Linked DNA regions of Homo sapiens. The protein of the gene in region 5 interacts with the protein of the main gene of each other region in a biochemical or structural test. Each region holds a gene or a part of one and is shown on either strand. Other genes may lie near its edges.

Region 1 (4,021 bases), on a different chromosome or scaffold from region 5:
GGGCGTAGTGGTGGGCGCCTGTAATCCCGGCCACTCAGGAGGCTGAGACAAGAGAATCGCTTGAACCTGGAAGGTGGAGGTTGCAGTGAGCCAAGATCACGCCACTGCACTCCAGCCTGGGCAACAAGAGCGAGACTCCATCTCCAAACAAAAACAAAAAATGTGTTCAAAGCTGGGCATGGTGGCACATGCCTGTTGTTCCCAGTTACTTGGGGGGGCTGAGGCAGATTGCTTAAGCCCAGGAGTTTGAGACCAGCCTGGGCAACATAGCGAGGCCCTGTCTCTGGGTGGAGAGAGGCTGGCACCAGGAGAGGGGCTGGGTCTGCTGCTCCACGCCTGCCCTGGTTCCCATCCATCCTGTCTACCCTCAGGGATTCCAGCAGAAGTTCACCTTCCACAGCAAGGAGATTGTGGCCATCAGCTGCTCGTGGTGCAAGCAGGCAGTGAGTGGTGCCCCCGCCCCCAGGGCCAGGCCCTGCACTGCTGGGTTTGGGTCCCCGAGTCTGAACACGGTCCCGCTGAGCCCGGCCCCTCGCTCTCCTCAGTACCACAGCAAGGTGTCCTGCTTCATGCTGCAGCAGATCGAGGAGCCGTGCTCGCTGGGGGTCCACGCAGCCGTGGTCATCCCGCCCACCTGGATCCTCCGCGCCCGGAGGCCCCAGGTGAGTACTGCCTGCACCCTTGATGCCCCGTACGCACTTGGGGTCTGCCAGCTACCCCAGCCTGCCCACCTCGTCACCAACACCCCTGCTTCCCTTGCAGAATACTCTGAAAGCAAGCAAGAAGAAGAAGAGGGCATCCTTCAAGAGGAAGTCCAGCAAGAAAGGGCCTGAGGTCAGCCCCAGGCTGGGCAGAGGCTGCAGGGGAGCAGGAGAGAGGGGTCTGTTGCTCAGGGTACAGAACTTCCACCCCCAGCTAATGCTGCCAGCTGGTGGGGGTCTGTGTGGGCTCTGGGGCCTCTGAGGAAGGCAGGATTAGATGCCAGTTTCTGCTCTGTGGCCTGGTAAGATCTGGCCCAGAGATGGTACGTGAGGGTACAAAGAGGGAACAAAGTCACCCAGGGGGCCTGCTAAGGATGATGGTAGGGTGTCCTGGACGGGAAGGAGCTTACAGCCTCTCACCTTGTCTCCCAGGAGGGCCGCTGGAGACCCTTCATCATCAGGCCCACCCCCTCCCCGCTCATGAAGCCCCTGCTGGTGTTTGTGAACCCCAAGAGTGGGGGCAACCAGGTGAACGCGGCCTTGCCTCTCAGCTAAGGGCTCGGGCGGGGGTTGGGGTCCAGCCCGTCTGCCAGCAGCTGTTCCCAGAGCCCGTTTCTGGCTTCTACCCCAATCCCTCTTTCCCAGGGATCCTGAGAAAATCCTGTCCTTTCTCCACCCCTCACCCCTTATTGGCCCTGGTTCCCACAGTCACACCCCTCTCCCTCTGCTGCTCCCACTTCGTCCCACCACTGCCTGACTGTCTCTTGGCTCCCCATCCCATCCAGGGTGCAAAGATCATCCAGTCTTTCCTCTGGTATCTCAATCCCCGACAAGTCTTCGACCTGAGCCAGGGAGGGCCCAAGGAGGCGTAAGTACTTGCCAAGGTTTTGTGGGGGACATGGGGGGGAACTTGCCTCACTCCTGGGGTACAGCACACATCCCCTGACCCCACTGCCATCTTCCCATGAGCCCAGGCTGGAGATGTACCGCAAAGTGCACAACCTGCGGATCCTGGCGTGCGGGGGCGACGGCACGGTGAGCTCCCCGCATGGGCCAGCCGAGCACCAGGGCTGGGCCTGAAGCCGGGGTCCCTGTGGGCCTGATTTGCCTCTGTTCTTCCTCCCCCAGGTGGGCTGGATCCTCTCCACCCTGGACCAGCTACGCCTGAAGCCGCCACCCCCTGTTGCCATCCTGCCCCTGGGTACTGGCAACGACTTGGCCCGAACCCTCAACTGGGGTGGGGTAAGCACCCATAGGAGGGGGGTGCAGCTGGGGCCTCTCCAGCCACAGAGGGCTCAGTCCCTGCCTGCTCCCCCAGGGCTACACAGATGAGCCTGTGTCCAAGATCCTCTCCCACGTGGAGGAGGGGAACGTGGTACAGCTGGACCGCTGGGACCTCCACGCTGAGCCCAACCCCGAGGCAGGGCCTGAGGACCGAGATGAAGGCGCCACCGACCGGGTAAGTTGGCCAGGGTTGGTGGGGGGCAGGGCAGGTGACTGGGGACTGGATCCCACTTTTCCACTTGCTGGTTCTGGGACCTCGGGCGTGTCTCTTCATTTCTCCAACTTCCACTTCTTCCTTGTACGATGGGAATAATAGTACTTGCCTCACAAGATGCTGTTTTTTCTGTGTTTTTTTTTTGTTTTTTTTTTTTTTTTTTTGAGACTGAGTCTCGCTCTGTTACCCAGGCTGGAGTGCAGTGGCGCAATCCCAGCTCACTGCAACCTCCGCCTCCCAGGTTCAAGCGATTCTCCTGCCTCAGCCTCCTGAGTAGCTGGGATTATAGGCAGGTGCCACCACACCTGGCTAATTTTTGTTTTTCTGTTTTCTTTTTTTTTTCTTGTTTTTTTTTTTGTTTTTGTTTTTTGTTTTTTGTGACAGAGTCTCACTGTCACCCAGGCTGGAGTACAGTGGCACAGTCTTGGCTCACTGCAACCTCTGCCTCCCGGGCTCAAGCTATTCTCCTCCGTCAGCCTCCTGAGTAGCTGGGACTACAGGCACCCGCCACCACACCCGGCTAATTTTTGTATTTTTAGTAGAGATGGGGTCTCACCATGTTGGTCAGCCTGGTTTTGAACTCCTGACCTCAGGTGATCCATCTGCCTCGGCCTCCCAAAGCACTGGGATTACAGGCATGAGCCACCACGCCTGGTCAGAAGATGCTGCTTTATTCCATAGACATGCACTGAGCGCCTGCTACCTGCCAGGCACTTCTCTAAGCAGTGAGCAAAACCAAGCCTCGCTGTTGTGCTCCACATGGCATGTCAGGAAGAAGTGTTAGGGGAGCTGACAGGGAAGAGATGCTGCAGGCACGCAGGGAAATCCCCCAGGAGCCACCAGGCAGAGCAGGGCTGTGCCTGACAGCGGGTGAGCTGGGCTGAGCCCTAGCGGACGCTGCTGACCAGGAAAAGCCTGTGAACAGATGGGCTGAGCTGGCTCGGCCACACGAGGCCCCTGGAGCGGGGACATTTGTGAGGCCCAGCCCTCATTTTGGTCCCTTGACCTTTTTCCAGTTGCCCCTGGATGTCTTCAACAACTACTTCAGCCTGGGCTTTGACGCCCACGTCACCCTGGAGTTCCACGAGTCTCGAGGTTGGCAGCCTCCCACTGAGGCCAGGGCAGGGTGGGCACAGGAGTGTCCCCGGGAGGGTCAGACCCTGCTCCCGCCAGTGAAGGCATCCATCCCAGCCCTCCCCCAACCCCACCTGGGCAGGCTGGGGTGACTCACTGGCCCCCACTGCTTGTCTCCACCCAGAGGCCAACCCAGAGAAATTCAACAGCCGCTTTCGGAATAAGATGTTCTACGCCGGGGTGAGTGGGGTCTGCACCCCCGCCTGTGCCCACCTCTTCTACCACCCGTGCCCGTGCCCACCTGTGTCCACCAGGCCCCAGGAGCCCTGCCGGGTGCTGGTGAGGAAAGATCTCTGTCAGCAGATGGTGACGCCCTCTGTCTCCCACAGACAGCTTTCTCTGACTTCCTGATGGGCAGCTCCAAGGACCTGGCCAAGCACATCCGAGTGGTGGTGAGCGGGGCCAGGCTGCCGTGGGTGGGTGGGCCGGAAGGGAGGGAGGCGGAGGCCACCTGGCACATGCACCTCAACACCCTCCCCGCCCGCCTCCAGTGTGATGGAATGGACTTGACTCCCAAGATCCAGGACCTGAAACCCCAGTGTGTTGTTTTCCTGAACATCCCCAGGTGAGGAGGGGGCTACCGGAGCTGGGGGGAGCCCTGCTGTCCTTGTCCTGCAGAGACTGTGTTTTGAGGCCCATGTCATCGCCCGCCTTTGCAGGTACTGTGCGGGCACCATGCCCTGGGGCC
Region 2 (4,021 bases), on a different chromosome or scaffold from region 5:
ATAAAATCAAGTATTACCTTTCTGGGAGACAGTACAGCACAGAGGTTAGGCTCTATGGTCTTAAAGTCAGACAGATCTGAATTCAAACCCAGTTCTGTCACTGACTAACTCTGTGACGTTGGGAAAATTATTCCTCATTTCTGGGCTTTTCTCATCATCTATAAAACAGGGAGTTGTTCAAAGGACTAAGTGGAAGATTTTATGTAAAGCAAAAACCGCAGTGCCCCGTATATAGACAGCATTCAATAATTAGCAGTTATAATGTGTTGTTATCATTACTAAAAGTAATGGCAAAAACCACAATTACTTTTTCACCAACCTAATATTATTATCATGTTTCACATGAATTAATAGTGTCAGACTCAGAACAGAAGCACAGGTGTCCTGTTCCCAGCTCTTTCTGCCATAAACCACCTGAACAGCTGGGAGACCTGGAAGCATAAGCAGAACTGTCTCTCACTTGATTCATCCTAGATCCATCTCTTTCCTCTCACCTCTCCCCTCCAATCCAACAGCAAGTCCTCATTTTTACTCTGAAATATAACTTAAATCTGGCCACATCTCACTATCCCCTTTGTTCTCCTGGTGTACAACACCATCATCTCCAGCCCCAATTCGACCAGAGCCTCTGAACTTTTCTCCCTGCTTCCTCTCCTGCCCCATGAGTCCATTCTCTTCAAAACAGTTGTGGTGTTCTTCTCAAAACATAAGTTCTATCATTCCCCTGATTGAAATTCCACAGTAGAGTTTTAGAGATAAATTATTCACAATGGTGAATAATGTTCCACATGATTTGGTCTCCACGTGTTGTTCCACCTACATTTGGTTACAATCTGCCCCTTGACCACATCCCCAGAAATGTGTGTGTTTCTAAGATGCTAGATTTCTGTCTACCCCAAGTCCTTTGTACTTGCTTTATCCTTTATTCAGAATTCCCTTTCCTCTGTTTTCAAATGACTGGCTTCTCATTATTGAGCTTTCTCAAAGGTCTTCTCTTTGGAGGGGCTTCCTTGAGCATTCCATCACTTTCCACTTAATTACCCTGGTTTTTTAAATAGCACTTGTCAGAATCTGAAATTACTTTATTTATATTTGTATTGCCTGCCTCTCACTGTAAGAATATACATTCCTGACATCAAGGTATGTTTCTCCTTTCCGAAAAGTACATATACAAAATAGGTGATCAATAAATACATTTTGATTGAAGAAACAAATGAATGAAGTCTACGGCTATTTCTATATGGTACAATAAAAATGTATTATTCAAACTTTTGACAGTGTCCTACATTGATGGCATTGAGCAAGGAAACACAGTGAATCACTCCATAAATGACAGTAGACATAGCCTACCCTACTAAGACATGTTATACATTGGAGATGAGCTAGAAAAAAAAAAGCAGTAGGAAACTTTTCAAATTATGTTTTAATTGTAGCAGCGTACACCTCAGCTGTCTCATACCCTATGTTTGTTTATTCAAAAAATACTGTGTGGGTGTCTACAGTGTGCCTAATACTGCTCTCGAAGTTTTAGACACATCAGTTAAAAAAAATAAGACAAAAATTTCTGCCATTATAGCTTATAGCATCTCTGTGGTTGAGTAGTGGAGAGTAAGTTGGGAAGATAGAAGGCTCTAATCAGAGAAGGGTGCACAAAATTGTGATTATGGAGTGGGTACAGTTATTGATCCAACACATGGTTTTGCAGGCCAGTCTCTGTTACAATTACTCAACTATGTCATTGTGGTATGAATGCAGCCATAGACAACATATAATAAATGAGCGTGGCTGTGTTCCAATAAAACTTTATTAAAATAGGTGGCAAACTGAATATTACCTGACCATAGCTGGCCAACCACTGGTCTGAGGTACAAGGCATAGGCCATGACCTTGGGTGTGAGTGGAGTGGAAGCTGAGGTAGATTGGAGATCAGACATTGGAGGTCAAGGAACTGGACAACCAAGATTGAAAGGATGGAAGGTGGGAAGGATGATCTACATGTATAGTAAAATTGCCAAGTATTAAGGCAGAAGTAGTACCAGAGAGTGTGACAATGAGAGAGGAACTGACAACTCTGAGAAAAAGAGGAAAATGTCCTATAGATTGGCAGATGACAGCATGAAAGGGAAGTAGATGATATAGTCTGATAACATGAGCTTCAAAGCTGAAGCTTTTTTAGGGTTAAGGGAGATATAATGGTCTAAAAATGGCAACAGGATAAAGTTCCATTTTCTGGGACTGTGGTACTTCTTCTCCACATGTTCAAAATAACTTTTCACCAAACACAATACACACATTTTAACTGTTTAAGAACAACGAGAGTAAAAAATATTTCCAGCAATAAGTCCCCAGTACCAGGTGCCTTAGGAAGGTGGTTATGGCCCTATATTTTGAAGATTCCTCATATGCTGTGATGTGGCATCTTTACAAGCACTAACCAGCTACTACCTGGAGGCACATTTTTAGCGCTCATTGGCAAGAAGACCAGCTTTCACGTACACACTGAATATTTTTTATTGTGTCTTCATAGAAAAACGGGAACTTTACAATAGTGACAGACTTATTGATATTATCTACATTGTAATGGGCTAAAAGAAATATCTCGGAGCCTAAAAAAAATCAAATTGATGATCACTAAAGTTTCAAAAGATCAGAACATGCAAGTAGATGCCTAAAAATGAAGATTCGAGGACTTGAAAAGCTAAGTCCTATAAAAGGGAACTGGAGGTTTTCAAAAACGACTAAAATGACACCAAAGAGAGATTAACCAGCAGGCAGAGAGCTGGCAAAGTGTGTTCATGAATTATATACCGTACCAGAAGTTCTAGCAGGAGAAAAGCATAGGATTAATAATTAACTAGCAGAGTAATAATGGGCTTGTATGTTCTGCTTTTTCTTAGTGAAAGAAATAGGCCTACTTACTCTTTCTGCTCATTGCTTGTCTCCTTGTACTTATGGAAAGGAAAGTTTATAAGCCAAATCCTTTTTATAACTGTGAATCATTTATTCCCAAAGCCTATTCAGGCTTCCTCTCATATTCCCATTTGGACCTTTCTGAAAATACTCCAAGGTTCCTGCTGGTGATTGGTACTACACAAAGAGCTGTGCTACCGTGCCACCAATATTTGAAGCCCTTCTCCACAGTATTTTACCTATCACCATTATTATCTTCATCTCCAATCAGCGTTTGTGGGAAAAGTGCACATTTAGCACTGCCCTTTGTACTAAATAATGTGCTGTTTCTGCTCCAGAGTTTAAAGTCCAGGAAAGATAAACTGATGCCTTTTCCCACCTCTCAGTTCCAGCACTGAGCACTTTCCTGAAGTGCAAAATGGGATTCCTTTAAATCTTTATGGGATAAATAAATCAAGACATGTGCAGGACACACCGAAAGTAAAACAGAAATTTTAAATTAAGGAAGGAGCATTAATACATTTACATCATGTGTTAGTAAGATCATGGAAAAGTTCTGGTAAATGCAGAGTTTTGCTGCAGCAAAGTATTAAAAACAAACAAACAAGCAAACAAAAAACCAGGGGTAAATATTCCCGAGAGGAGCAGGAAGAGATAATAAGATCTCTTACTTCTCATAGAGAAGGAAACTAAATGTTTAGTGTTTACAGTACAGTCATGCAACACGTAACAACATTTTGATCAATGATGGATCACGTATATGACGGCAGTTTCATAAGATTATAGTATCATATTTTACTATACTATTTCTGTGTTTAGATATGTTCAGCTTCACAAATACTTAGCACTGTGCTCTAATTGCCAACAGTATTCAGTACAGTCACACGCTGTACAGATTCGTTGCCTAGGAGTGATGGGCTACCCATATAGCCTAGGTGTGTAGTAGGCTAGACCATATAGGTTTGTATACGTATACTCGATCATGTTTGCACAATGGCAAAATCACCTAATGACACATTTCTCTGGACATATCTCCCTCATTAAGCCACGCATGACTGCACATCTGTTTTCTATCATCACTTTTCTTTTTAAAATGAGCTGTAATATTTAC
Region 3 (4,520 bases), on a different chromosome or scaffold from region 5:
TTAGTAGCTGCCAAGCAGTGTTAACACATCTCTGGAAAGGTGGGCTTAGGCTGTGAGGCTGCAGCGAGGATCTGGGAAATGCAGACCTCACCAGAGATTCTGGTCTTTGGAGGGATTTAGGTGAAACTGTGCTCTTATGGTATTATTTATTGCTGAGACATAGTATAGGCAACAGAAAGATGTTGCAGATTCTAGAAAATTCTGGCTAGGTCAGTGTCCGTTGGCAAAAGAAGAGGGAATAGTGGGGGATATGGTCTGGGAGTAGATGGCTAGAGAAGGGGCTGCAGAAAGAAGGCTGCTACCCACAACTGCAGCATTATGTGTATGGGAGATAAATTCACTTGTCATATTTCAAATCAGGTTTACAGGTATTTCTCCCCCGTCCGCTCCCCCCACCCAGCTGTGGCTTAACAGGTAGTCTTCTCAAATTTTAATTACAATTGGTAATATATTGGCGTCTAAAGTCTAGGTCTGACTAAGATGATGGTTTGTGTGTATGTGTACGTGACTATAACAGAAAGAGCTTCTAAAGTCTTCCGATGTGGTGGGAAAGGTGCTGCGCTAGGCATCAGTCGTTCTCTTCCCAAGAGAATCTCCCATCTCTAATGTCAGACTGCTTCAGGAGGTGAAAAGGGTGTGGGTGTTGCAGTGAATTTCCCCAGCCCAAGACACACACACACACACACACAGACACACACACACACGCGCGCGCGCGCGCGCGTTAACAAGTTTGGGGGGGGCGGAAAAACAAACTCCTGCTGATGGCTGGGAAATCCAGCTAAAAGCACAAGGCAGGCTCCTATAGCATAGGCGAGCCAGACAGACGCCCAGATAGCCTCAGCTCCCGAGCGCGAAGCCCAGCTGCTGCCGGGGCACTCTCGACTTGCTCTCGGGGAGGCTGCAGGCTGCGGAAAGCCGGGGCGCCAGCCTCCCTCATCACACTCCTTTCCCGAATCACCTCAAACTCTGTACCCAACGGCAAAGCTCAGAAATGCAAAAAACCGAAGAGGGTCAAATTGTACTTCAATCCAAAGGAGGCTGAACACCCGCCCCCCCCGCACCCCCCCCCCCCACCACACACACACCATGCCGCTTAATTTCTTTTCCCGGCTTAGATAAAAAGCATTACTTGCCCATCGAGGCTTGGAGATGGGGGGCAAGAGGTTGGTCCGAGGCTAAGCTCACCTGCTGCTGAGGTGAGAGAGCAGACACAGGATGGAAGCTATTCTGACCAGCAGCTAAGTGGTTGGGGGATTGCAAAGACCCTCAACTTCGCCTCTGGCTTTTTTTTTTCATTCGTGTCACTAAAGGGTTAAACACGGCAAGGCTCCAGCCCGCCCCCCAACCTCCACGCCGCTCCACTCCCCCTCCCCTTTTTGTCTCTCCCCTCCCCTCCCGCGCGTCGCTAGGAGGTCATCAAGCGCTCTGCCCAGTCCGCGTTCGCAAGCCCCTCTGCTTCCCGCCCATCGGACCCGTGGCTGCTTACGAAGAGGTGTGCGCACACTGAGGGGCGTGTTCCAGCATAGGGAGACGCTGAGCGCCCACGGGTTAGACCTCAGAGCCAAGCCAGCCATGGAGTGGGATGGGGGAAAGTTTGGCACCCTGCGAGGGGCTGCCGGACTGGAGTGGGCGGGGCGCCCGAGGGTACTTTAGCCTTCCAGGCTTAGGGACTCAGGCTGCCCAGACCTGAAGCGGTGTGCGGCCATGGACCGCGGAGCTGCCGCAGCCCAGGGCACTGCCCCGCCTCAGGATGGAGAGCAGCCCGCTGAGTCTCCAGAGCCTCCGCCGCCTTGGCCGCCGCCGCCACCACCACCGGCTCCGCCGCCGGCTCCGCCGCTGCTCTCCGAGGCTTCGCCAGAACCCATACCAGAGCCCTGTCCAGAGCTTGCTCCAGGTCCCTGTCCAGAGGCGACCTCAGAATCAGCCACAGAACTGTACACAGAACCGACCCCAGAACCAGCCACAGAGCCGGCCTCAGAACCGGCCCCAGAACCTGCCACAGAGCCGGCCCCAGAACCTGCCACAGAGCCGGCCCCAGAACCGGCCCCAGAACCTGCCACAGAGTCTGCCCCAGAGCCGACTCCAGAACCTGCCCTAGAGTCGGTCCCAGAGCCGGCCCCAGAGCTGACTCCAGAAGTTGCCCCAGAGCTGGCCCCAGAGCCGACCCCAGAACCTGTGACAGAGCTGGCCCCAGAGTTCTGCCCTGAGGCGGCTCCAGAGTTCCGTCCAAGTCCAGCACCATGTCTATTGCAATGTCCGGTGGACACTCGAGAGAGAGGTCTAAAGACCTCGCCATCGCCATCGCCATCGCCATCGCCCAGAACGCCAATGTCGTGGTCCAGAATAAAGGTAAGCAAAAGACCCCCTGAAGCGGGGAAAAGAAGCAAGGCGAAGTCAGATGGCTATGGAGCCCGCGGGACTCCGGGTACCCCTTGCATCCCGCTTGTCTGGCACTGGCTGGCCAAGATGCTGAGAAAGATGCAGGGATGGGGAACCCGGGGGAATGGGAAGGGGTTGGGAGGCGGGAAGCAACATGTGGGAATCGAGAATGGGCTGTTTGGGGCTAGAAACGGGGGTGACAGCAGGGGGTGGGAATCGGAGCAGTTTTCCCCTTGAAGAGAAGCGACAGTGCGGTGAGCGCCAATATCTTGAAAGAGAGGAGGAAGATACCCTCGGGGAGCGCAAGAGACCTGGAGAAGTGTTTGGGGCTGGCCCCGAATACATAGCGGACGGATTGAGTGGGGGCGGTGGGACACACCTCTTAGCCGCGGTCACTGCCGCAGAGGCCCAAGCTGCGGAGCCTTCGCCTGCTTGGCCCCCTCCCTGCCACTGGGGAGGGGGCGCCTCAGCTGGGCGCAACTGGCGGCCCTCCAGGGAGGTGCCCGGCGCCTCTGCCGGCTGCTTCGAGCTGGTACTCCTGGTGAGGACGAGGGGATGGGCGGCGCCCACGCGCACTGCAGGGGAAGGGCAGGGTTCTCCGGGAGGAGGGGGAGAGCATGCGTGTGTCGAAGCCACCATTCCATCTGTCTGCAGGATTTCCCAGCAGGTAGGTGCAAACGCAGTGATACAATGTTGCGCAGCGTCACAAACGGGGCAACTGGCATCCCGCACCAGGGCCAATTGGAATGGTACAGGAGTCCTGGTTTAGAGACACGAAAATAGGAGTTGGGATTGCAGAACGTGTGAAGGGGAACCTTCATCTCTACCAGTCTACCGCGACGCCTTCTAAATCGTTACACTTAGCCGGGAAAAGATGAGTGGAGAATCTTCTGGCACTCGCCCAAGGGGAGTAGGGAGGAAAAAGGTTTTCGTGTTTACCTTGGACCCTGAAACCCCGTCTGCTCTTAAGCGGGAGTATGCCTGTCTTTCCTGCTTTCTCTGCACTCTCCCTACTCTTCCTTTACCCTAAACTTCGTTCCACAAAACTGAAAACCAGGATAATGCACACACACACCTCAATTTAGCTTCCCCTGCAGGAAGACATACACACGCGCGCGCATTCACACACACACACACACACACACAAACGAATAACACAACACACGAACAATACCGGTCCATCCTGCTGCCTAGCAGACCATAAGGACACGGCTCAGGAACCCTTCTGCTGTGGACCGCACACTTATAGAATGTAGAATGCGGGAGGGGAGGGGGCAGATTGGCATCACGAAATGGAAGCATTGGTTGCTTCCTGAGTTCTTAGTAGGGAGGCTTGAGTTTGCAAAATATCTGCAATGACGAATAACTGAAAAAGAAGGCTAAAATGAAAAGTTTCACAGAGAAAAGAAAGTGCAGAGGTTTAAAAATAAATAAAACATGACGGTGGGAGACTCTGATAAGTTTTTAAAAATTCAACACCCTAGCTCTCACCAGGGGATGTATCCCTCCCCTTCCTGAAAATACCCTTTCCTGCAGTGATCTTAAGAAGGGCAAAGTTGGGGTGGCTAGATTTGGGAGCTCACCCTCACCGGGTGATTGATCTTGTCTTTTTGGAAGAGTTTGCATTAAGCTGGTGGGAAAGAGACAAGCAGGAATCACCTGACCTGTGGCCATCTTAAGCGAAATTTTGGGAACATGGCTGTGAAACTGACACGTGGGGACGTAATACCCAGAGAATGCATCTCCCCTTTGGCCTCTGAAAGGCTGACTGGCGACCAGGACCCTTCCCCCAGTGAAAAGCATCCCCTGCTCCCATGCGAAAGCATCTCCTACCTGTTTGACAGGAAAATGTCATTGCCAGACAGATGAGGAAGATTAAGGTAAGGGGAATCAGATTAGTTTCCTCTACGTAGTGCCCACTCAGACGTGCTGGCTAGCTGACCCACAGACATCTGGCAACACTGGCAGGAGACCAGGATCCCAGGGGTTTGACTTTGCCCTTAGTAGAGCCAGACATTTGTTGAATCACTTATCTGTAGAATGGGGTTAAGAACCACGACCATCCGTTAAGAAGGCCATGCAGATTAACTAATCAGTGGCTCTGGAGAATTTTGAAGGATGTAAAGGATCTAGGTACGTGC
Region 4 (3,798 bases), on a different chromosome or scaffold from region 5:
GAGTAAGAATGACATAGCGGTCATGTTTTTAAAAAATGTCATCAGGTAGAGATGCATGCTGAAATATACATAATTGAAATGACATGATGTTTGAGATTGCCTTTAAAATATTAAAGTAAGAGTTCAGGCTGGGCACATTTGCTCATGCCTATAATCCCAGCACTTTGGGAGGCTGAGGCGGGTGGATATCTTGAGGCCAGGAGTTCGAGACCAGCCTGGCTACAACATAGCTAAACCCCAATCTCTACTAAAAATACAAAAATTAGCCTGGCATGGTGGTGCATGCTTGTGGTCCCAGATACTCGGGGAGTCTGAGTCACAAGAATTGCTTGAACCCAGGAGGCAGAGGTTGCAGTGAGCCAAGATTGTGCCACTGCACTCCAGCTTGGGTGACAGAGGGAGACTCTGTCTCAAAAAAAAATAGAGTTCAGAATGGGGAGAGAGATGAAACAGCAATGGCAAAACATTAATAATTGTCAAAGCTATGATGGTACATGAGGGTTAATTATATCATTCTGTCTGCTTTTGTGAATTTTTGAAAATGTTCTATTATAATAATCTTAAACCACGTACAGAAAATTGCAAACATTTGAATTTTTTTGGCTTGTCTTCACATCATTAAAGGTAATGTAAAATTGGTTATCACCTGGATTTTTTAAGTGGTAAATCATATATTTGTTTGGTTTTTGAGGCACCAAATAATCCAAATTTAATTCAAAATTTTCTGCTCTTCTTGTTCTTGGGGTTTCAAGCAAAATAGAGGGGATCATTTGTTATTTAAAAATGTAAACATATACAAAGATAGCAAGAACTGTCTTTGTATACAGCAAAGATAGCAATGAACTCCCATTTATCAATTACCCAATTTCAACAATTATCAATACACAGCTCATCTTAGGACATCTGTGTCCCTAACTACTTACCCAACTAGCTTATTTTGAAGTAAGTCTCAGACTACTGTATTTCTTCTATAACATGTTTGGTGTGCTCTTCTAATCAAAACCATAATGACTTGTTTTAATCTGGTGATTCTTGCATCTTAAAAAATAACTTCTTAATATTAGCAAATACCCAATTACTGCTTAAATTCTTTAAATTATCTGATGTTTCCTTACACATGTAGGTTTGAATTAAGAACCAAACAAGGTCCACAATTGCATTAGGTGATATATCTCTAAAATCTTTTTTAATCCATAGGCTTTACTTCCCTCTTTCTCTCCCATTTGTTGCGAAAATTTCAAATCTACCAAAAAATTTAAATTACAATGAATAACTGTATAACTTTTACTGGGATTTATCAACTGTGTCCAAAAACCAGAAATCTCTCTCCTCTGTTTCTCTGAGCATACAAATATTTTGCTGAATCATTTGAAAATAAGTAGTGAACATGCTGACACCTCACTCCCAAAGCCCTCAACTTGTGTTCTTCTACTAGAGCAAATCTATATATAGACTTGTCCTATATAACCACAATACCATTCTCACACTTCAGAAATTCAACATTGATATGCTACTCTATCTAATATAATCCCTCATTCAAATTTCTTTCATTATAACAATAGTGTCTTCTATAGTGTTTTATTTTTTCTTTTGATCCAAGGTCAAAGACCACATATTGCATTTAGTTACCTTTCTTTATCTCCAAAAATTCCTCATTCTTATTTTTTTGTTCTTTTGTGACATTTATATTTTTTTCAAGAGGCAAAGCCAGTTGTTTTGTAAAATATCCCAACTATTGGATGTGTTTGTTTGCTTGTGAGTATGTCCAGGTAAAATATTGTTGGTGGCAATACTACACACGTGATTTGCATGATGCTTAGTAAATCATATCAGGAAGCACATCATTTCAGTTTATACCTCATTGGAATTTTAATTTTGGTCCCTTGGTGAAGGTGGTGTCTACCAGTTTTCTCCATTGAAAAATCCTTCTGCAGTTAATAAGTCACCTATAATTTGACACTTCGAGATTATGTCACCATTCTGTTTCCCAAAAATCTTTCACCCAAAATTTTAGCAGCCATCGATGAGTCTGGATTGAATCAATTATTTACATGAGTATTTGCAAAGTTTAGGTAAACCTTTACATAGAAAATATTTTCAAATATTTTCATTTGTTTTCAAAGAACAAATGGATAATCTCTGAAATTTAGAAGTGTCATAAATATTCTTAGATGACTTTAAAAATTTAGTGAGATTATTTTGTTCAATATAAGCATACAAAGCAATTTTATAACAGAAGAAAACATATACAAAAAAGGTTAAAACTCAAATGCCGGAAACAACCAGACAGTTGATGGAAACGAGTGATGTAGGCAGAGAGAAAGCTGTATGGACTTGTGGTGGACTCCAAGTGTAGGCAGCGGTTGGGGGAGTGAGGCAGCTGCTGCTTAACTCCAGCCAACTATGACCATGGACTGCCAGACAACATGGTTCTTAAGAGAACTCAGAAGTGTGCAAGTTTATATGAAATCTCCTAGGTTTCAGCTATTGGCTACTAACTAAAAAACAAAATCCCAAAGTCTACACAGACTAAATAACCAATGTTAATGAACCACCAATTTAGAACATATAAAATATACACTGAGCTATGAACAACTGCTTAAGATACTTTCGTTAATATTTGCACATGAGAGACACATTTTCTCCCTAAGGAGGGATTAAATTCCTAACATTTTCTGAGAACCTACTAGGGTTTCTGGCATGAATAAGGAGGACATGTTTCCTACCGTGGTGAGCTTACAGTCTAGCAGAGAAGGCAATTCAACAAGCTATTACAGGAGTATTTAAAGTTTGATGAGATGTAAAACAATGAGAATTAATGCAGTTTAGTTTATCAAAATGAACTGAAGGAAAACGTTCAAACTTGGATTTTAAAAGTGAGTGTGTATTAAGAATGTGAATAAGAGAAAATCATTGCTTGGGATAAAGGAAACTACACAAGGCATTCAGACAAGAGGAGAGAACATTTTAGTCACTGAAAGAAATCCAAGAAAATTTGAGTCTGAAATGTAAGACAACAATCTTGCCCAAAGTGAGGCCACAAAAGTAGAAAGACCCAATGTTCAGTTAACTACTCTTCTTTTGGAACAGATGTCTTGGGAAGTCACCTACTTAATTCAGTGATGCAACCTCTGTATGATGTACAGATTTGAGAAGGTTAATGAATGAAGCCAAGGAATCATGAATTGGCTGTTGCTTTAAGTTAGGGTAGAAGGAGTGGCAGTGGGAATGGAAAGAAGAGAAAGTGTTTAAGATATACCTAATAGATAGACTCAGTATGATTCCGGGACAGATTAAATATAGTGATAGCCAGAGAGAGGAGAAAGAAGGATCAATGATAACTCACAAGTCTGCTTTAATGACTGGGCTTCCACTGATAAAGGGACAGGTCTATAGGGGAAGAAGTTGAGCTCATGTTGAGTTTGAAGTGCCTGAGTGACATGCTTCTGGAGATAAATAAATGGCAGTTACTGCATGATTCTGGAGCTTATGAGAAAAGACTGGATTAGAGAGATAGGTTTGGGAGATTTCAGCATGTAATTGATGGCCTTTCATCTCCAAAACAGTAATTAGATTAAAGTAAGTGGTTTCAGATAATCGTTCATAGACAAAAAGATGTGCATATGTTTTTAACAGCAATTATTTGTTTTTCTCACAGCAGGAATCCCAGCTCCAGTGTATTTTGGAGTTTTGATTGATACTTCATGCCTCAAATGGGGATTTAAAAGATGTGGAAGTAGAGGATCATGCAGATTATATGATTCAAATGTCTTCAGGTACCAAATCAAAAGCATTCCC
Region 5 (4,755 bases):
CAGCAGGAAGGACTTTCCAGAAGTGGAGGCTAATTCTGGCTGCACATGACCTTGATAAAAAGGGATGAGGAAGGGAGAGGAGTCATTTAACTGCCCCTCCATTATTATGAAACAGAATCCCTTTCTCTTGACTGCCAGGGGATTTAAAATACATTAAATAAAGCATATGAGCTAAACCCCAGTCAGTATCTCATTCCTCAGGTTCACAGGAGTAGGGATGGCCTAATTGTTGTCTGGGGCACCCCAACCCCTCTAAGACCTGAGTTCCCAACCCTGATCAAGGTTAAAGGGGTGGAGGTCTTGGGGCTGCTCGGCTCTCAGGGGTCTCCTTGCCCAAGGAAGGTGGTGACTCCAGCAGGCAGAGCTGGCCTTCCCGCTTTCACTGCCTCCTCTCTCCAAGTCCTATTTTATCCTCCGCCTTCTTTTCTACATAATCTGGGAAAAGGAATATGGAAGCCCCTTAAACTGAAAAAGTCATGGGAAAGAGGTAAGCATAAGCTGGAGGAAGTAAGAAGCAGGAAGAATGGGAGTTAGATAGTAGAAAGAATTTTCTAGCTATTTTCTAATAATGAAGGACAAGGCCAGGCATGGTGGCTCACGCCTATAATCCCAGCACTTTGGGAGGCTGAGGCAGGCGAATATCACTTGAGGTCAGGAGTTTGAGACCAGCCTGGCCATCCTGGTGAAACCTCATCTCTACCAAAGTACAAAAGTTAGGTGGGCGGTGTGGCATGGGCCTGTAGTCCCAGCTACCTGGGGAGGCTGAGGTGGGAGGATCACTTGAACCTGGGGGCAGAGGTTTCAGTGAGCCTAGATTGTGCCACTGTACTCCAGCATGGGTGACAGAGTGAGACCCTGCCGAAAAAAAAAAAAGGAAAAGAAAGACAGAAGGACTGTCCCTCCCTGGACTGTCAGGGGATGGGCTGGAGGGGGTCCTTCTGGGGGACAAGGAAAGAAGCTGGCTCAGGACCAGGGCATCTCTTTAGGCCCAGCTCAGAGTGAAGCCAGGAAGGGTGGCTGTGGGGTGCTGGTGATTGGGAGCCTCTGCTGTCACTGCTGTTCACTGCAGAGCAGGACTGTGGGCTGGCCCCATGGCCTGAGCCCCAGGACTGGCTGGGTGGGGGTCCGAAGGGCTGGGGCACCTGCCAGCCTCTCTTCTATGCTCGACTCCCCCTCCTCTCTGGGATCCTGGGCTGAGACTCTGGCTGGGAGGGGCTTACCCTACACTGAGGGGCACCCCGTCTCCCCACCCCCTGCACTAAATCTTCCCTTGTGTCTCAATGTCTAGGGGTCTCTAAAGGGAAGGGGGCCTCTAAGCCTTTTTCTGTCTTCCCCCCTTTCTGATCCTGGGTCTCCTCATCTTTGTTTCTGACTTTCTCTGCCTCTCTCTGCGCTGTCTCTATCTTGTCTCTGCCTTTCTCATGCTTTCTGGGTCTCTGGATCTCTGTTTCTGACCATCTCTGGCTGGCTGTTTCTCTTTGCTTCCCTCTCCCTCCCTCCCTATCCCCGTGCTAGTTCTGGGTTCGGTGCCCTTGTCCTCTTTCCTGGGCCTGGATGGCCCTCTATCTGGGCCGGTCCCTTAGAGGCCGGGCAAGCGTCTCCTGGAGACCGCCTCTCTTCGCCAGGCTGGGCTCTGACGTCCAGCTCTCAGGCAGCGCTCGCCTCTGCCTCAGCCCGGTTGCAGGTCTGTGGCCCTTGAGCGAGGCCGCCGGGGCACCCAGAAGGGAGCGCGGGGTGGGTGGTGGGAAGGGGGAGGGGCGAGGGGGCGGACCCCGGGGGGGGCCCCCCCACACCGCGCTCGGCCCCGCCCCCGGCCCCGCCCCTCCCGGGTCCCTGCCGGCGCCCCCAGCCGTGCCCCGGCCGCAGAGCCGCCGCTGCCACCCGATGAATGGAGTCGCCTTCTGCCTGGTCGGGATCCCGCCCCGCCCGGAGCCCCGGCCCCCACAGGTGAGGGTGCTGGGCCAGGGAAGTGGGCGGGGCCGGTAGCTGCTGGGGAGCGGGCTGCCAAGCCAGGGTCGCTGCGACCCCGCTCGCCCTGCACAGCCTGGGGCGCACGGTGGGCGCGGGCACCGCGGGCACCGCTGCGGGGAGATTCAGCTGGTGGCAGGCCCGGGAGGGGGCCCGAGCAAGAGCTGTCCGGGGTAGAGGGGTGGGAAGGACGGAAGCAGGCAAGGGGTCGGGACGGGCACGGGGCTGTCAGGACAGGGGGCACAGACCCAGGTGGCGGTGCCAGGCCCCCAGCGGCTGGGCAGCGGGGGCGGGAGGCCCGCGGCTTTTGTTCGGGTTTTTCAGGCGGGGCGCCTGCCGCCGTTTCCTCTGCCCGAGTTTTCGTTTTCCGTTGGCGAGGCCCCGGCACAGCTGGAGGGAGAGGGGGTGGGGGAGGGGGTTCCCGGAGCGGGACGTCCTCCACTAAGGCGTCCGGACACCCCCTCCCCGCGCCACACTCGCCCCCTGCCGGGTCGGACTGCGGGACGGGTTGCCAGGCGCGGTTCCGCCGCCCTCCTGGATCCTGGGGAAGTTCTAGACACAGGCCCAGGACCCCGGGCTCTGCCGGCGAGGCTGCCCTCCCCTCTGCCCTCTCCGACCGGCTGTGGGTGGGTCAGAGCGCGGGGTGCCAGGGGCATTACTCAGCGCTGGGCTGCTCTGCCTGGGTTCTTTCATCTGCCAGCTGCTGAGGCTGGGGAGGGGCCAGCAGGGGCCTCCCAGCCCCATCCCCCCATCAGGGCCATTCCCTTACCTCTGAGCCTGGCTGCCCGCCCTGCAGGAGCCCCCCAGCAGGCCTCCCTGCTCCTAAGTTGAAGGGTTGAACACTGTCAGGCCAACAGTTTCCCTGAGCTCGGAAAAGAAATTCCCCGGGGTCCAGGTTGAGGTCAAGGCCAGGGCTGAGGCCTGTTCCTCTTTAGACAGGGCTGAAAGACTTGGGGACCCTCCTCCCCAGCTTTCCCGGCAGTGTTGAAGGTGGGATCTGGTGCTTGCAACTCTTTTGGAGACTGGTGTGTTCCTTGGTTGCTGGATGTGTGTTCAGTTCTCCCTCAATCTGCATCTCTCCCCGACTCCCTTCAGCCAAAGTGTGTTTCCTAATTATGAACTTGAAATTCAGGATGGACGGGGGGTGGGGGTGGAGGTCATGAATCCAAGCATGAGTCCCTTGGATTCAATCCCCCACCAGCAACACATACTTCATCTCTATCCCCTGCACCCCTCTCTGTCTCCACCCCAACCCTGCGGCCTAGCTGGGGGTGAGTGGCTTTTGATCCCATGTGGTTCTCCCCTCTGCCAGGGCAACAGACCCCATTCCCCAAAGTGACAGCTCTCACTGCCATGTGCTCCTTGGCATGCGATTTGAATCTCGATTATATAACCAGTCATTTCGCCTCCAAAGGCAGCCCAAAGGCCCCCGGCCCCAGCGGCTTCTTCCACTTGCCCACAGTGTGGTTGGGTCCACCCCAAGGTGGCTGGGAATTCCAAGATCCTGCATCTGAGGACCTGACCTCTTCTTGGGAACCATGGGAGCAGTAAATCCTCTACATTCAGTGCTGGATTCAAAGGCCTCAATAATAATAAACAGGAAGAATGGGAGTGGGCAGGGTAGGTGTTGGTGTCCCATTTCACAGAGAGGGTCTGAGCCTATGTAGTGACAGTGCCCAGGCAAGAACCCAGGACACTTGAGGGTAGTCAGGGCACAAGATGAAGCTTGGGGAGGAAAGCTGTTAGGAAGGTGTCTGACTACGGGAATAGGTCAGGCTTGTGTGGATCCCAGCCCAAGCAGAGAAGGACTGGGTGGGGGGAAGAGGCCCTGTGCTTGTGCCCCTCTCCTCGGGCTGACCCTGGCTCACGGGGAAGAAGTGCAGCATTCTTGGCATGGATGGGAGTGGGGGTGAGGGAGGGTGCTGGTTCTGAGCAGAGCAGTGCAGGAGTGGGTAGTGGATTGCTTCATCCTACATTGCAGGGATACTCAGAAGGACTTCTTGATGTGTAAGGTTAAAAGAGAGACTACAAAGCAGCAGCATGGAAGAAGTTACAGTGTGAGGGACTGCAGTTAGATACTCAGGAGAACTTCTAGGGAGGGGCTTGTGACCCACAGCATCCCAGGCTAGCCATGCAGGGAAGTTTCCTCCAGTATAGTGGGTCAAGTGGATTCTTGTGAAGTTGGATTCCAATGTAGAAACCTGGAGATGGTCATTGGAGATATCAAATATTCCAGCAAATATATTCAAATGAGCACTGGTGCCTGGAAACAAAAAATGTGTTTTTAAGAAAGGGGAGTTGCTTTCACAGTATAGCTCATAGTTAATACACAGACAGCAAAAACTCCTGGCCAGTATTTATAAAAACTACCTCATTTGATCCTCACAATACCACTAAGAGGTAGATACCATTATTATCCCCATTTTACAGTTGAGGACACTGAGGCATAGCCAATATTGCAGCCCAAATCACACCCCCAGTGCACTGTGGAGCCAGGGTAGGAATGTGGCAGTCTGGCTCTAGAGTCTGGCTCTCACCCTCACTATCTGGCTTCTCAGGACCTGCTATGTCCCGCTGTCACTCCCACCCCAAATCCGTGTCCATTTTCTACACAGCCCAAGATCAAGGTCAGCTTCTGGCTGGATTGCAGCTTAGTTGCTTGTCTTTTGTTCTATTTCTTTACTCCTCCAATCTTTCCCACCCTGCCCCATGCTAGCCCATAGCACTGGGCCAGGGCTCGGTTCACTGGTGTTTTCCTTCCAAAGGGGCATGAAGCCCTGCTCTGTT
Region 6 (4,021 bases), on a different chromosome or scaffold from region 5:
TGTTAAAAAAAATACTTGTCACTAAATTGACTTGTTAATGGGTCCTGACCCACAGTTTGAAAAACACTGCTTTAAATGCTACATTTGTGATACCAGAAGGACTGCAACTCACATCTTACTGGGTTTCTGTGAAGTTCCTTTCATGACATTGGCAAGGAGTTGATGGTGGTGGTGGTTATTGTCTTTGATAGTCAGATATGTGGGTTTATTTTAACAAAGAATTTAATTATCCTTTTTTCCTTCAGTCTAAGTCAAAGTCTGTCTTCTGTAGTATTTCTTATTAAAGATGGAACAAATATTTAAAGCCATCACATGCATTGCGTAAGTTTTCTCTTTTAGTACTTGTATGTCTTCCTACCAGGACCTTTTTGACAAGGATTACATAATGACCAATATTAGACTCTTCTGTATCATGTCCTTTGACAACACTCTCTGGTCACTATAACAGAAGAGTAAAGATAATGGTTTACTGAGGTACTTTGCCAGTTGTAGGTTTACCACTCACTATTCTTTTGTACCTTTTTTTATGTTGCTGATCATTATTAGAAAGACAAGGCAACTTGTATAACTTGTTTTATTAAAAAAGTGAACTATATGCTTATTTGGCTAGAGTATATAAGACAAAAAAATAAGGAATTAAAGTTCCCCAAGCCTAGCTTCATTTAAGCAACTTAAACTTACTTCAGGAACAACTCTTGGACTCTCTGGCATTTAAAAAAAATTGTGCCAAGATGACATTGGGTAACTACTAAGTAAATAAAAATCATCAAAAAAGTGGAATGCCTTTGGTAACGTAACTGCAGTAAAACTGATATGCAGTACCCTGAGGAATGTATGGTAATCATGATCCTTTTGGAAACTTTTATATAACTTTTATTGGAAACTGCAATATAAAATAGCATTTGTGGAGCACTTGCTACATGTCAAGCACAGTTCTAAGAGCTTGTCTTATATTGTCATTTAATCTTCATGATACCTCATGAAGGAGGATTCAGTTATCACTCATATTTCACAGGAAATTGAGTCATACAGGGATTAAGTAACTTATTTAAGGTCATACTGTAAATGGTGGAGCTAGGATTGGAACCTAAATTGTCTTGCATAGAAACTGTTCTCTTAGCCATTACGCCATGTTACCTAGTATGACAGTGGTTAGCAGAAGTTTGAATCAGTAATCCCACCCCTTAAAGTTTATGTGACAAAATAAATCAATAGCAACAAAACACTTTATGCACAGAGTTGTCCCTTGCCGTGTTGTCTGTGAAACAACTTACATGACCATGTAGTCGTTAAATCAGTTTTGGTTATGAGCACGTTGGAGCATCAGACAATCATGAAATGAAATATTTTCATAAACAACACTATTTCAAAAATATATTCCAGGTATCTAGTGTTAAATGACAAAAGAAGAGTAAATATAGACTATGATTAGAGCTACATAAAATGTGTAGCCTATAGAGAAGAGGCAGTCGATGCACAGATGAGAACAATTTTTTTGTTAGAATATATAGATTATCAGTAAGTTCTTTTTTAAAAAATCTGTTTGGAAATATGAGCAGTATTGAATTTTAAATTACACATTGTTATTTATGAAGGAAGAGGTGGCATAAAAATGAGTAAAGAGAGGCACTGCAGTAACTGAGGTGAGAGATAAGTCCATGAATCAGGTTAGCAGTCATTGTCATGGTGAAGTGTGGATAGATCTGAGAGATATTTAGGAAATGAAAGCAACAGGTTTGGTCATCAGATATGAGGAGTTAAAGTAAGGAAGGAGTTTAGGATGTTGTCTTAGCTCAGGATACTATAACAAATATAGACTGGATAGTTTAAACAAAAGAAATTTGTTTCTCACAGTTCCGCAGGCTAGGAAGTCCAAGATCAAGGTGTTGGCTGAGTCAGTTCCTGGTGAGGGCCTTCTTCCTGGTTTGCAGGTGGACATCTTCTTGCTGTATCTTCACGTGGGTAGGGGGAAGGGGTCATGGGGAGGAAAGGAAGCAAGCTTTCTCTCATCTCTTCTTATAAGGTCACGAATCCCATCATGAAGGCTCCCCCTCATGGCCTAATTACCTCCCCAAGTCCCCCATCTCCAAATACCATCACATTGAGGATTACAGTTTCAATATGTGAATTTTGGGGGCATATAAACGTGATTTATAGCAGATGTCTTCCTGTTTTTGGCTTGGGTGCCTGGATGAATACAGGTGCCATTCAACAAAAGAACCAACTTTTTTTTTTTTTTTTTTTTTCTAGGCAGGTCAGGCTTATGTAAGATGAAGATTTTTGTTTGGCCACCTTGAGTTTGAGATACCTGCAATTTTTGAGATACCTGCAAAACATTCAGGTGATGAGGTCTAGTAGAAAGTGAGTCTGCACCAAAAAAGAGAAGTTCTGTGCTGAAGAGTGTGATTAAAGATTATTTGGCTTAGGAGTGAAGGCTGAAGTAATGAGTCTAAATGAGACTTCGCTAATTGCTTTGACTTTGATTATGTATAGTCTGCCTGTTCATTCTAAGTTTTAACATGACAGACCCCAAATTTCAAACAGCAGTCATCTCGAGGCATTTTATTAATATGGGTACAAAGGATTCTCAAGTAAGAAATATTAGCTGTCCATTTAGAGTTGGTCGTAAACTACATTTTACAGTCTTTTCTTGCTTCCCTCTAGGGCGTTGCCTAGCTAAGGCATTAGTTATTTCTATGTCTGTGACAGTCTTCTCCCAAACAAATATTTCATGCCAGATTGTGCACGTTTGTGAGATTTCCCAGTAAGGATGTTGAAAAACAGAGTGCACGAATAATATTTCAATGAACAAGATTTATACATCCCTGAAACAGCATTTAAGAACACGCACCCATCTAAAAATGGAAAAATGCTTCAATATATAAAGCAATAGATTTGTACATACAGTTTTTTTTTTTTTTGGTAAATATATAATACCTCTTAGGAACCACAAGAATTCTTAAAGTTATACTATGGCACTCCTGAAAAATAAGTGACTTAAAGGAAGGAATTCTAGCTTATGATGGCACTAGGTTCCCTTCCCCTCATGTAGGCTCTCCTAACTAATCAGTGAAATAACAATAAATTCACAGAAAGAGGCAAACATTAATAATACTGAAAACTAAGTCTGACAGAACGTCTGTTGGCAAAATTCACGTGAAATTTCCCTAAGGCAGGTGGAACTGGTTGAAGAAAACCAATGTTTTCTTGGTTTTCAGTGGTACGGCGTGGTGATTATAGTTAACAATAATGTATACTTGAAATTTGCTAAGAGAATAGATTTAAGTATTCTCACTACAGGAAAAAAAGGGAACTGTGTGAGGTGCTAGATAGTTAATTAGTTTGATTGTGGTAATCATTTCACAATGTATGTGTGTATATTTAAGGTGATATCAACATCAGTTTGTACAACTTAAATATATACAATTTGTATTAGTTAACAATACCTCAATAAAGCTGGATTAAAAAGAGAAAAAAACCTATTGGTGGCTTCTTTTGGCTTTCCCTTATTAAACAGAGAGGCCTCAATGACTGGAAAGATGACAGGAAGACCCATTGCCCCTTCCCCACTCTCTGTCACCAGCTTAGAGACCAGGTCAATACATCCAACTTGGAGCACGCCATTTACTGCCGGAAGCATCTGTAATCCTTCTCTTTTCACCCCATCTTTTTAATTCTGTTGAGAGATGACCACTCTCAGAAACGAGCAGGACAGGAAGGTGGGTAGGTGGGTGGAAAGGGGTCTATAGAAGATGCCACTTCACCATTGAGAAGTGTACTGTGGTCTTCATAAGGACAGTGATTTTGTAGTTGCTTTGAAAGTATTGCAATAACAAAGCTTACTGGATAGTGTAGTTTTTCTGGCAGGGTATTGGTGACAGAGAAGGAGGTAGGGGGATAAGAGATGATTTCATCTGAATTGCCCTAAAACCGTGGTACATGGTATATAATAACTTACAACTGGGAACCTGGCTTGGAGCTGTACACATCAACTAGCCTTGAACGCAGATCTGAAAGTGGA
Region 7 (4,021 bases), on a different chromosome or scaffold from region 5:
GAGCCGAGATCGCGCCACTGCATTCCAGCCTGAGCAACAGAGGGAGACTCCGTCTCAAAAAAAAAAGAAAAAGAAAAGAAAAAGACGGAGGCTTCCTGGGTCCTTTGAGCTGCAGCTTATCCTTGAGGTCCTGAGGTCTGCTAGACTTGTTGAGACAGGATCAAGGCAGCGTCCTCAGTTCCCGGGGAGCCGCCCTGGATTCTGGTCATTGGTGTGTCTATGGGGGTACACAGCATGGATCCTTTCCTTCTACACCATGAACCCCTCAAGTGCAGGAATCCAGTCTGTGTCCTCCTGGGGGCCGATGCACCACGGCCACATAGCAAACGGCCAGATGGAGTCTCCCTAGGTAGCTAACCCCTACCCTGGGGGGTCTCTGCAGGGCAAACCTGGTGGACCTGCAGAAGAAGCTGGAGGAGCTGGAACTTGACGAGCAGCAGAAGAAGCGGCTGGAAGCCTTTCTCACCCAGAAAGCCAAGGTCGGCGAACTCAAAGACGATGACTTCGAAAGGATCTCAGAGCTGGGCGCGGGCAACGGCGGGGTGGTCACCAAAGTCCAGCACAGACCCTCGGGCCTCATCATGGCCAGGAAGGTGAGCACTGCGGGGTCGGGGAGGTCGGGGAGTGGTGGGGAAGGTCCCCCTGGAAACAGGAGGCAGGTTGGGAAGGCAGCCGGGTCTCTGCATTCTGATTAGCTCCAGGCTCTGTCCCTCATCCCCACCAGGGACTCTAGGTCCTGAGAAAGGGCCCAGCTTCTGGGCAGATGGGAGCCGTGCCAGCCACACCAGCCACACACAGCTGTGCCCTCCAGTGACTACTTTCTGCCCTGGAGGGCACTTGAAATCCATATTCCCAGAAAGCTAGCACGTGGGGGTTTCAGAAATGCGAGTGTGTTATGGTTCTCCAGAGAAACAAGCGATGAAGACGAAGCGTGTGTGTGTTTGCGCCTATGTGTACAGCCACCTCAGGGCGATGGCTCAGCCAGTGACAGACCGCCTACGCAGCGGTGGCGACGTAAGATGATCAGGCCATGTTTTTGCTGTGCCTTCTGTATGTTTATTTTTATTTTTATTTTTACTTTTTGAGACGGGGTCTTGCTCTGTTGCCCAGGCTGGAGTGCAGTGGCATGATCTTGGCTCACTTCAACCTCCGCCTCCTGGGTTCAAGGATTCTCTTGCCTCAGCCTCCCGAGTAGCTGGGATTACAGGCACACACCACCAGGCCCAGCTCATTTTTTTGTGTTTTTAGTAGAGGCAGGGTTTCGCCATGTTGGCCAGGCTGGTCTGGAACTCTTGACCCCAGGTGATCCGCCTGCCTCGGTTCTCTATATTTAAATAAACAGACAGCAGCTCAGCACTGCGCTGTACAGAGCATGGGAGCCTGGGTGTGGAATGGGCTTTCCAGTGTTTGCACAGTGACGACATCGCCCAGAGAGGGATTTCTCAGTGTATCCCTGTCCTTAATGATACTTGAGTGTATGTGTAGAGAGAGATTTATTCTAAGGAATTGGCTGGAGTGCAGTGGTGCGATCTTGGCTCACTGCAACCTCTACCTCCTGGGTTCAAGGGATTCTCCTGCCTCAGCCTCCCGAGTAGCTGGGATTACAGGTGCATGCCACCACACCCAGTTAATTTTTGTTTTTTTAGTAGAGATGGGGTTCACCGTGTTGGCCAGGCTGGTCTCGAACTCCTGACCTCAAGTGATCCTCTTGCCTCGGCCTCCCAAAGTGCTAGGATTACAGGCATGAGCCACCGCGCCTGGGCAGGCTTTTCCCTGAAGGCCTTCAGCTGATTGGCTGAGACTCACCCACCCTGGGGTGGAGTAATCTGCTTTGCTCAGAGTCTGCCAATTTAAAGGTTAATCACATCTTAAAAACATACCTTCCCAGCAACCTCTAGACTGGCGTTTGACAACTGGGCACCGTGGTCTCACCGAGGAGACACACAAAGCTGACTGTCACCCACCCTTTGAAAGTCTGCAAGCCCTGGTGCTGACGGCCCCCGTGCTTAGTCATCCCGGGCTCCTGGGCCATGATGCAGCCTCTGTGCTCTGTGTTTGAGAATAGTGCCCAGGGGATACAGGGAGGATGTGACCACTTGGGGACAGTGGCTCTTAAACACAGAAGTAGGGGACTTAGTGTTGACAGGGTGTTCAGCTCCTCACCGGTGTTCTTTCAGACCTAGAACGCTGCCTCTTCCTGGAAGCCCACCATCCTGTAGTTCCCCAAACTGGGGGAACGTGACTGCACCTAGTCCCGTGGGTCTGCGCAGGTGGCAGCAGTGCTTGAGGGCCCTGCCTTCCTCGGGAGCAGCGGCTCAACTCCTGCGGGGATTTAGCTCTGCAGCTCTGTCTTCTGGCCTCTAGAGTGCTGCCCTCCCTCCCTCCTGAAGTGTGCAGCCGCGGACTTGCTATTTCTGTCCCCGTACTGCAGGCAGCCTCTTCCAAACCGGAGCAGCCTTGGAAAGCTCAGGTCCGCCTCCGCCCGAAGCACTGGGTGGAAAAAGGCAAGCGTGTGGTTCACACAGCCACAGCAGGGCCTTGAGACAGTGCCAGTCCTCGTGTGTGCCAGGGACCCTCAGGCTTCTGGGGGAGCCTCCAGTGGTCCCTGATGGGCTGGGCAGTGGACATGAACCCAATGCTTGCTGTATCAGCAGCTCCTGCTCCTGCTGACAGGCGCAGGTGAAGCCGGGCCCACCTGCAGCTTTACTGTAGCGGGGAAAGGGAGATCGGGGCCTTTGAACCTGAGGGCAGGCGTGGCTGGGCAGGTTCTGTGGTCTGGTGGGTGGAGATGTCCCAGCATCAGCTCTGGGTGTCAGTACTGTCCTTCCGTCATGTAAGATGTCAGTCATCTTGGGGGAGGCGGGGAAAGGGCGCACGGGACTCTCGTTACTATTTTTGCAACTTCCTGTGCTTCTATAATTCTTTCAAAATTAGGTTTTCTTTAAAGTGCCCGAAAACTCGGGTGGGAGAGGATGCATTGAGCTCGTGGGCTCAGCGGCTCTGGCTGCTATGCAGGTAGGGCTGCAAGGGCTCCTTTCATTTCATCTTATTTATTTACTTATTTTTATTTATTTATTTTTTTGAGACAGAGTCTCGCTCTGTCACCCAGACTGGAGTGCAGTGGCACAATCTCGGCTCACTGCAACCTCCACCTCACAGGTTCAAGCGATTCTCCTCCCTTAGCCTCCTGAGTGGCTGGCATGCCTGGCTAATGTTTGTATTTTTAGTAGAGACGGGGTTTCACCATGTTGGCCAGGCTGGTCTCAAACATCTGACCTCAAGGAATCCATGCATCTTGGCCTCCCAGATTGCTGGGATTACAGGCGTGAGCCACCGCGCCTGGCCCAGTCTCGGTATTTGAGGTCATGCTGGTTTGTAAATGTCTTTTTGGCTTGACCGTGGCCTCTGACCCCTCTCCCATTGGAGCAGCGTCCCCGCGTTACCTGGGCCAGGGAGATAGGTGAAGAACTTGCTGCTTGTTACGCGTGTGGGGCTTCTTTGAATTGTCCATGCTCATAGCAGAGATGAGAGTGTTTGTTCTCGCCTCTGAGTTCCTCCACTCCGCTGTAGCTTACTTCCAGGGTGGCGGTCACACGGCCTGCCCAAGGCCACCTCACAGTACCAGCTGCTGTCTCACAAGTGACGACCTGAGTCGAAGCCGCTGCCAACACCTTTGACGCGTGTTCTCATTAAAATTGAACAGCAGCCTCGTTTTACAGTTGAAGAAACCGAGGCTGTGTGGGGTCAGTGCCTGAATCGGATTCGAACCCTCTTGGATCTGCTCGGACTTGGGAGCAGCTGCCGGGGCTGAGCCTCCAGATCCACTGCACTGCGGTCCCCTAGCTGGCCACCGCTCCCAGCCTGTGTGTTAATTTTTAAAATCTCTTGTAGAGATGAAGGCTTGCTACGCTGCCCAGTGTTGAACTCCTGGCCTGAAGCGATCCTCCCGCCTCAGCCTCCCAAAGCACTGGAATTACAGATGTGAGCCACTGCCCCGGCTCTCTTCCAATTTTTGACAACA

Evidence for each region.
Region 1: the proteins of ARHGAP23 (region 5) and DGKZ interact in a test that uses a peptide from one of them, tested with the Homo sapiens proteins (one large-scale study listed by IntAct).
Region 2: the proteins of ARHGAP23 (region 5) and SLC15A5 interact in a test that uses a peptide from one of them, tested with the Homo sapiens proteins (one large-scale study listed by IntAct).
Region 3: the proteins of ARHGAP23 (region 5) and DGKK interact in a test that uses a peptide from one of them, tested with the Homo sapiens proteins (one large-scale study listed by IntAct).
Region 4: the proteins of ARHGAP23 (region 5) and SLCO1C1 interact in a test that uses a peptide from one of them, tested with the Homo sapiens proteins (one large-scale study listed by IntAct).
Region 6: the proteins of ARHGAP23 (region 5) and DOCK4 interact in a test that uses a peptide from one of them, tested with the Homo sapiens proteins (one large-scale study listed by IntAct).
Region 7: the proteins of ARHGAP23 (region 5) and MAP2K2 interact in a test that uses a peptide from one of them, tested with the Homo sapiens proteins (one large-scale study listed by IntAct).

The regions. Positions count from the first base shown.
Region 1 is NC_000011.10:46,370,942-46,374,962, forward strand, and holds part of DGKZ (diacylglycerol kinase zeta), read left to right. Parts: intron 1-371; coding exon 372-443; intron 444-545; coding exon 546-662; intron 663-762; coding exon 763-834; intron 835-1,133; coding exon 1,134-1,229; intron 1,230-1,486; coding exon 1,487-1,569; intron 1,570-1,675; coding exon 1,676-1,736; intron 1,737-1,829; coding exon 1,830-1,943; intron 1,944-2,019; coding exon 2,020-2,160; intron 2,161-3,215; coding exon 3,216-3,294; intron 3,295-3,457; coding exon 3,458-3,513; intron 3,514-3,662; coding exon 3,663-3,725; intron 3,726-3,824; coding exon 3,825-3,898; intron 3,899-3,992; coding exon 3,993-4,021. UniProt on the Homo sapiens protein: Diacylglycerol kinase that converts diacylglycerol/DAG into phosphatidic acid/phosphatidate/PA and regulates the respective levels of these two bioactive lipids.
Region 2 is NC_000012.12:16,218,352-16,222,372, reverse strand, and holds part of SLC15A5 (solute carrier family 15 member 5), read left to right. Parts: intron 1-4,021. UniProt on the Homo sapiens protein: Proton oligopeptide cotransporter.
Region 3 is NC_000023.11:50,467,863-50,472,382, reverse strand, and holds the start of DGKK (diacylglycerol kinase kappa), read left to right. Parts: upstream 1-1,557; 5' UTR 1,558-1,704; coding exon 1,705-2,349; intron 2,350-4,520. UniProt on the Homo sapiens protein: Diacylglycerol kinase that converts diacylglycerol/DAG into phosphatidic acid/phosphatidate/PA and regulates the respective levels of these two bioactive lipids.
Region 4 is NC_000012.12:20,747,017-20,750,814, forward strand, and holds part of SLCO1C1 (solute carrier organic anion transporter family member 1C1), read left to right. Parts: intron 1-3,658; coding exon 3,659-3,776; coding exon of another isoform or gene 3,777-3,798. UniProt on the Homo sapiens protein: Mediates the Na(+)-independent high affinity transport of organic anions such as the thyroid hormones L-thyroxine (T4), L-thyroxine sulfate (T4S), and 3,3',5'-triiodo-L-thyronine (reverse T3, rT3) at the plasma membrane.
Region 5 is NC_000017.11:38,426,602-38,431,356, forward strand, and holds the start of ARHGAP23 (rho GTPase-activating protein 23), read left to right. Parts: upstream 1-1,862; 5' UTR 1,863-1,884; coding exon 1,885-1,947; intron 1,948-4,755.
Region 6 is NC_000007.14:112,196,196-112,200,216, reverse strand, and holds part of DOCK4 (dedicator of cytokinesis protein 4), read left to right. Parts: intron 1-4,021. UniProt on the Homo sapiens protein: Functions as a guanine nucleotide exchange factor (GEF) that promotes the exchange of GDP to GTP, converting inactive GDP-bound small GTPases into their active GTP-bound form. Involved in regulation of adherens junction between cells.
Region 7 is NC_000019.10:4,113,991-4,118,011, reverse strand, and holds part of MAP2K2 (dual specificity mitogen-activated protein kinase kinase 2), read left to right. Parts: intron 1-382; coding exon 383-593; intron 594-4,021. UniProt on the Homo sapiens protein: Catalyzes the concomitant phosphorylation of a threonine and a tyrosine residue in a Thr-Glu-Tyr sequence located in MAP kinases. Activates the ERK1 and ERK2 MAP kinases.